Linked DNA regions of Homo sapiens: region 2 is linked to region 1. The links come from fine-mapping of genetic effects on gene expression. A gene starts in region 1. The other region holds a variant in brackets. All regions are shown on one strand. Distances are from middle to middle.

What was found. PIP is the estimated chance that this variant, and not a neighbour inherited with it, causes the effect. A credible set is the group of variants that fine-mapping cannot tell apart.
Region 2: its variant is the best candidate, but not a certain one, in a credible set for the expression of ZNF207 in whole blood (TOPMed, PIP 0.74).

Annotation. Positions count from the first base shown.
Region 1 is chr17:32,348,969-32,351,882 of GRCh38, forward strand. ZNF207 (zinc finger protein 207) reads left to right here and starts at 1,189. Exons shown (of 12, transcript NM_001098507.2): 1 at 1,189-1,358; 2 at 2,818-2,914. The coding sequence starts at 1,318. MIR632 (microRNA 632) reads left to right here and starts at 1,141; the gene lies at 1,141-1,234. It also overlaps a transcript of C17orf75 not described here. RefSeq lists enhancers at 639-758, 929-1,278.
Region 2 is chr17:32,513,844-32,516,757 of GRCh38, forward strand. All of the region lies in intron 21 of MYO1D (myosin ID), which reads right to left. All of the region lies in intron 1 of LOC105371734 (a long non-coding RNA gene), which reads right to left. Among named protein-coding and RNA genes, the nearest start is that of CDK5R1, 28 kb to the left of the region's middle. RefSeq lists enhancers at 1,471-1,520, 2,401-2,570, 2,641-2,690. The variant G/C (reference allele first, on the strand shown) is at 1,235.

The sequences.
Region 1 (2,914 bases):
GATTCTCCTGCCTCATTCTCCCGAGTAGCTGAGGTTACAGGCGCCTGCCACTACGCCTGGCTAATTTTTGTATTTTTAGTAGAGACAGGGTTTCACCATGTCGGCCAGGCTGGTCTCGAACTCCTGACCTCAAGTGATCCGCCTGCCTCGGCCTTGGCCCATAGTGTTGGGATTACTGGCGTGAGCAACCGCGCCCGGCTATCAGCTCCAGTCTTACCACGATTAGTTTTTCACGTGCCCAGCCTCAAAGACTTAAACTCTTTGCTCCCTTACGGAGATACCCTTTCCTTCACCTTGCTTGCTCCCGTTGACTCCTCAAGAAACCTTTCTTATGTCGGGCGCAGCGGCTCAAGCCTGCAATCCAGCACTTTGGGAGGCCGAGGCGGGCGGATCACTTGAGCCCAGGAGTTCGAGACCAGCCTCGCTAACATGGTGAAACCCCATTCTACTAAAAATACAAAAATTAGCCGGGCTTGGTGGCGCGGGCCTGCAGTCCCAGCTACTCGGGAGGCTGAGGTAGGAGAATCGCTTGAACCCGGGAGACGGAGGTTGCAGTGAGCAGAGATCGCGCCGCTGCACTCCAGCCTGGGAGACAGAGCGAGACTTGGTCTCAGAAAAATAAAACAAAACAAAGAAAAACAAAACTTTACTTGACAACCCAACGACCACTACCACTACAGCCGCCCTAGGACTCCCGCTCTCTGAGGTCCTACAGCACTTCGCATTTCCCTCAACGCCGCACTGAGAACTCTGCATTGTGTACTCGTCTGTCACCAATCTGCGAGTTACAAAGCAGAGACTAACTTATTTGGTTTAGCATTTAATAGGCACATAATCAACATTTACTGTTCAATTGAAACAAAATTAAAATTGGGCGCTGTCTCTATCTTTATTTGTGATCGGCCCTAACTGCACTGGCAATCTTTTCCGTTTTTTTGTTTTCTGTTTTCCATTCGCATGCCCCTTAGCGTACCTGGGGCTCCGGCTCCTTTACAAATGAAACCCAAAGTGCTCCGCAAGCACAGCCAGCGAAAGCGAAAAACTCTGAAACGGACAAGATGGCTGCCACCTCTTCGCGCCTCTTAGTCCCACCCACTCAGGGCGGAGGTCTGCGTCATGTGACCCTCCCCTTCTTGGCTCCGCCTCCTACCGCAGTGCTTGACGGGAGGCGGAGCGGGGAACGAGGCCGTCGGCCATTTTGTGTCTGCTTCCTGTGGGACGTGGTGGTAGCCGTTGGGTTGGGAAAGTGAGGGATTTTTGGCCTCGTTTCTCCTGCTTCTTTTCTCCTCCCTTTTACTTTGCCGGTAGAACACAGTTATGGGTCGCAAGAAGAAGAAGCAGCTGAAGCCGTGGTGCTGGTATCCTTTGTCGGTTTGAAGTCGAGGTCGCGTTGGGGTGCCGGTTGTTGGGGCCTGGGACTAGGAGGCCTGGATTTGGCTTACGGCGTGGAGCGTTTGTATTTAGGCGTCTGCGTGGGTGGCCTGGTGGCTGGGATTGGACTTGGGAAGGCTTCTAGGAAAATGGGGTTCCGAGGTCGACAGGCTTTTGCAGTTGTGGGTCGTGTGACTCTGTGACTCAGGAGGATCTTGTTCGGTGCGAATTTTGGACTCCGGGAGGCGGCCTGGACCCCTCCGCCAGGGACAGTGTCCCCTAGGGACTATTCAGCCACCTTCCGTTGTTTTGGTGACGATTCAACAAGGGACTTTTCTTCGAGTGCGATAGGCTTATTACTTTCATGGAGGGTTGGGGACAGCTTCACAGTCTGTCACCCACTTTTTCTGTTTTTATTTACTTTATGTGTGTTTTGTGTTTATTTTTTCGAATTGGCGGTTTAGTAAAGAACCAAGTTAGTCAACCCTGGTTTCGAACCTTTTTTTTTTTTTTTTTCTTTTCGGGGCGGGAGGAGAACTAGCTTCCGTGTCTCACCCAGAGGCGCCTTAATCTTCAGGAAGCGTTCTCACAGGGCGGAGTTTCTGTTACCCAACTTTGTAGGACTAAAAAGTGCCTATCTTATTAGGAAAACTCTTACTACAGTGTGGTATTAATGCTTTTTCTGGAAGCGTTAATATTCTTTACATTAAAATTGATTTTATTTACTGTTTTGTACGTAAAGGCGGCTTGTTACAGTACTGCGTTTATGTAACAGTTTTAAAAATAGCTTAAATACGGTTACGAATTTTGTAATGTGATTTTAGGAAAATCTGAGTAGTGAGGTAAGAATTCTGTTTTATTGATGTAAGAATTCTGCTTTATTGATTTTATTGATCTGTGAATTTAAATACATTGCTTGGCAACATAAATTCATACGGAATTGGAAACAACTTTATGGATTGTTCATTCGAAATTATGTGATTATTGTTCACCATATAGTTACTCTTAGATTCTAAATATTGCTAAATTCCTAATCCAGTTATTGCTATCGTCTTCATATCTAGTGAAGTAATTGTCTTGACAGAACCTTAGGGATTTCTTAACTGAACTCTTTCCTGTCCTCAGTGTGCATTTGTAAATGTTGAAATATTTATAACAAAAGTTTCACCGACATCTCTGTTAAACACAGGAATTTGACAAAGTATATTGCTGATTATTGAGATGTGTTTTTTGGGGTGGTGAAGAGAGCTGGCCTTCTAGGAAATTGAAAATACTGAAATAACATGGCAAGTGTAGTCCCTAATTGTGTAATAAATATAAAAAGCAGAGTTTCTATACAGTACCATTTTGGTTTTAGCTGTTCCCATATTGTAATGTTATCCATATGTTTTTATTATAGGCAGTGTCATCATTAGGCTGTCTTTGTGCCTTAACAGTATTGATCAGGTATTGTAATAGAGATTTTGATGATGAGAAGATCCTTATTCAGCACCAAAAAGCAAAGCATTTTAAATGCCATATATGTCACAAGAAATTGTATACA
Region 2 (2,914 bases), 160 kb after region 1:
TTTTGTAGACAGGATCTTGCTCTGTTGCCCAGGCTGGAGTATAGGGTGTGAGCATGGCTCACTGCAGCCTTCTGGGACTACAGGCATACACCACCATGCTAATTAAAAAAATTTTTTTGGCCGGGCATGGTGGCTCATGTCTGTAATCCCAGCACTTTGGGAGGTTGAGGCGGGTAGATCATGAGGTCAGGAGTTCAAGACCAGCCTGGCCAAGATAGTGAAACTCCGTCTCTACTAAAAATACAAAAATTGGCCAGGCATAGTGGCATGTGCCTGTAATCCTAGTTACTCGGGAGGCTGAGGCAGGGAGCTGCTTAAATCCACAGGTAGAGATTGTAGTCAGCTGAGATTGTGCCACTGCACTCCAGCCTGGGCGACAGAGCAAGACTTTGTCTCAAAAAAAAAAAAAAAAAAAAAAAAAAAAAAAATCGTAGAGACAGGGTTTTCCTATGTTGCCCTGGCTGGTCTTGAACTCCTGGGCTCAAGCCATCCTTCCACACTGGCTTCCCGAAGTGCTGGGATTACAGGTGTAAGCCACCGCGGATGCCCAAGATTTCTATCTTTTTATTCAATGTTAGTCTTTTATTTAAAAAATATTTTTCACACTATTATTTCCAGCAATCTTTATCTGAAAATGTCCAAACTTTAAAAAACACTATTCTTAGAAGCAATAGTGCAAATTATAAAGGGGAAAGGAGGGAAAGTCTAATCCTTGCTTTGCAAATAGCAGGTCACACTCTCCAAAATCGTGGTGACCTATAAAAATTTGGAAACTAGTCAATGTCCAACAACAATGGGTAAATTATAGTTAGTTTGAATCACGATGAGGGGCTGTTAGTACATCACATTGCTTGCTGAGCTTGAAAAAAGGGATTTTTCTCAGATACTGATCGTTCTTTTAGAAGTTTAGTTATAACACATCCGGGAGTCAGACATTCCAGCTGGCAGCAGCAGCAGGAAAGAGATGCGGACAGGGGCCTTCCAGGTTCCCTGTATTTCTAGGAATGTTGCTTAATCAAAAGAGGAGACAATGGAGGCATAGTGGGAAGAATACAAGGTTTGGAATCAATAGTTTAGGGTTCAAATCTAGCTGTCTGGCTCTGGGCAGTTACTTAATCCTTTTAAACTCAGTTTCCTTAACTGGGATAATGAACAGGGATAATGTTCTTTTTTCTAGAGAGTTAAAGGAGAAAATATATGCACAGTGGCTAGTGCCATGCCTGGCATCGAGTAA[G/C]TGCCCCATTAATGTTTGTTAATGGAGTAAGCGCTTGAATGGAGGAGGCTGTTAGAGTGGAATGCTGGTTAGACGAATGAAACCAGGGCTGAAAGGACCTTTGCCCAGCCTCTCAAGGCCTCTGTCCCTGACCACGGATATTCCCCTAAGAAGCAACTATGCCACCTTCCAGGGCAAAAAGGCTTGTCGATTCCAGAAGGACTTTTTAACTTGTTATTCAGTATTTTTAAATTCCCTCCTCCTGTCTTTTCTTTGACATAGAGTCTCGCCCAGTCCCCCAGCCATGGCCTACTGCAGTCTTCACCTCCTGGTGAAGTCATCTTCCTGCCTTAGCCTCCTATATAGCTGGGACCACAAGTATGTGCCTCCATGCCCGGCTAATTTTTTGATTTTTTGTAGAGACAGGGTCTCGCTTTGTTGCCCAGGCTTGTCTTAAACTCCTAGGCTCAAGCAATCCTCTTGCCTCAGCCTCCCAAAGTGTTGGTATTACAGGTGTGAGCCACTGTGCCCAGCCTTAAATCCCATTTTTAAGGACAAAGGATAATGCTTTCTTCTTGGGGCTGACGACATAGTTCTTTTTGGATATTTTCCATCACACTGTCACTGAACCTTGCTCCCATCCAGGCAACTATAATCCACAGTGAAGAATATTTGATTAAGTAGCAGGTGGTGGGGGATTTTTGTTCTGAGGGGAATTCAAAGAAGTTAAAACAGAGGCAGCTATCTCATAAACCAAGCCCAGAACACGGAGATGAAAAGAAACAAATTGCCCACTTTCTACCACCTGTTTGAGAACAGAAAGATTTACACTCACTTATGTCAGCTAAAAAAATGTACCCTTGTCTCATTGCGGTAAAAGAGCCTCCACTGCTCAGATGCTTCTGATGGAAAGTCTACCCCCTGCTCCGATACACACTTTCATGCTGGTAATGACAGAGGCAAAGCAGGCCTTTCTATCAATATGTTCTGCACACTTCCTAGCAGCTTTGCTTTTTCTATTCTGCATTTGCTATTTTAAGCGAGTACATAATGCATCAATTTTCAGACTCTTACTCAATGCCATTGCTACAGAACTGAGAACTCAGTAATCTTGTCAGGCAGAGCAGAACAATATTCCAACAGATGAAACATTCCATGCAGCCTTATTTCCCTTTTCCTGGGATGGGGCATCTATTTCTGGCCTATAATGAGAGATGAACCAGTGGCCATGGTCCAGTGCCTCTTGCCCTGGAATCCCACATCACAGAAACCACTCACCATGCTGCTGCTGGTAGACACATGAAAGGCCCTGTGGGGGTCTCAAGTTCATTTGACTGCTCTCTTATTTTTTATTTTAAGTTCCCAGAAATGGGTTGTTTTGATCCAGGCTGGAGCTTGCTGGCTGGGAAAGTGTGGGTTCTCTCAGGCCACATTTCCCCTTTTCCTGCCTGCCATGAAGAGTCCCCATTTTCTCTGGAATCACCAATTGGATTTGAGAGCCCCAGAGGAACCTTTGTCTCCCTGCCCCCAGTCTCGTAGAAGATTTAAATGTGAAGTGTCTCCACATGGCTTCTTGCCAAATTTGGCTTGCCCTTGAGCGCAGACACACTTCCAATAGAAGGCCAATTGCATCTGATACCTCAGTGGGCAGTTTAGGCAAATTTCCCTGCTGTGTGTGTTTACAGCTTTAGTGGCTTCTAA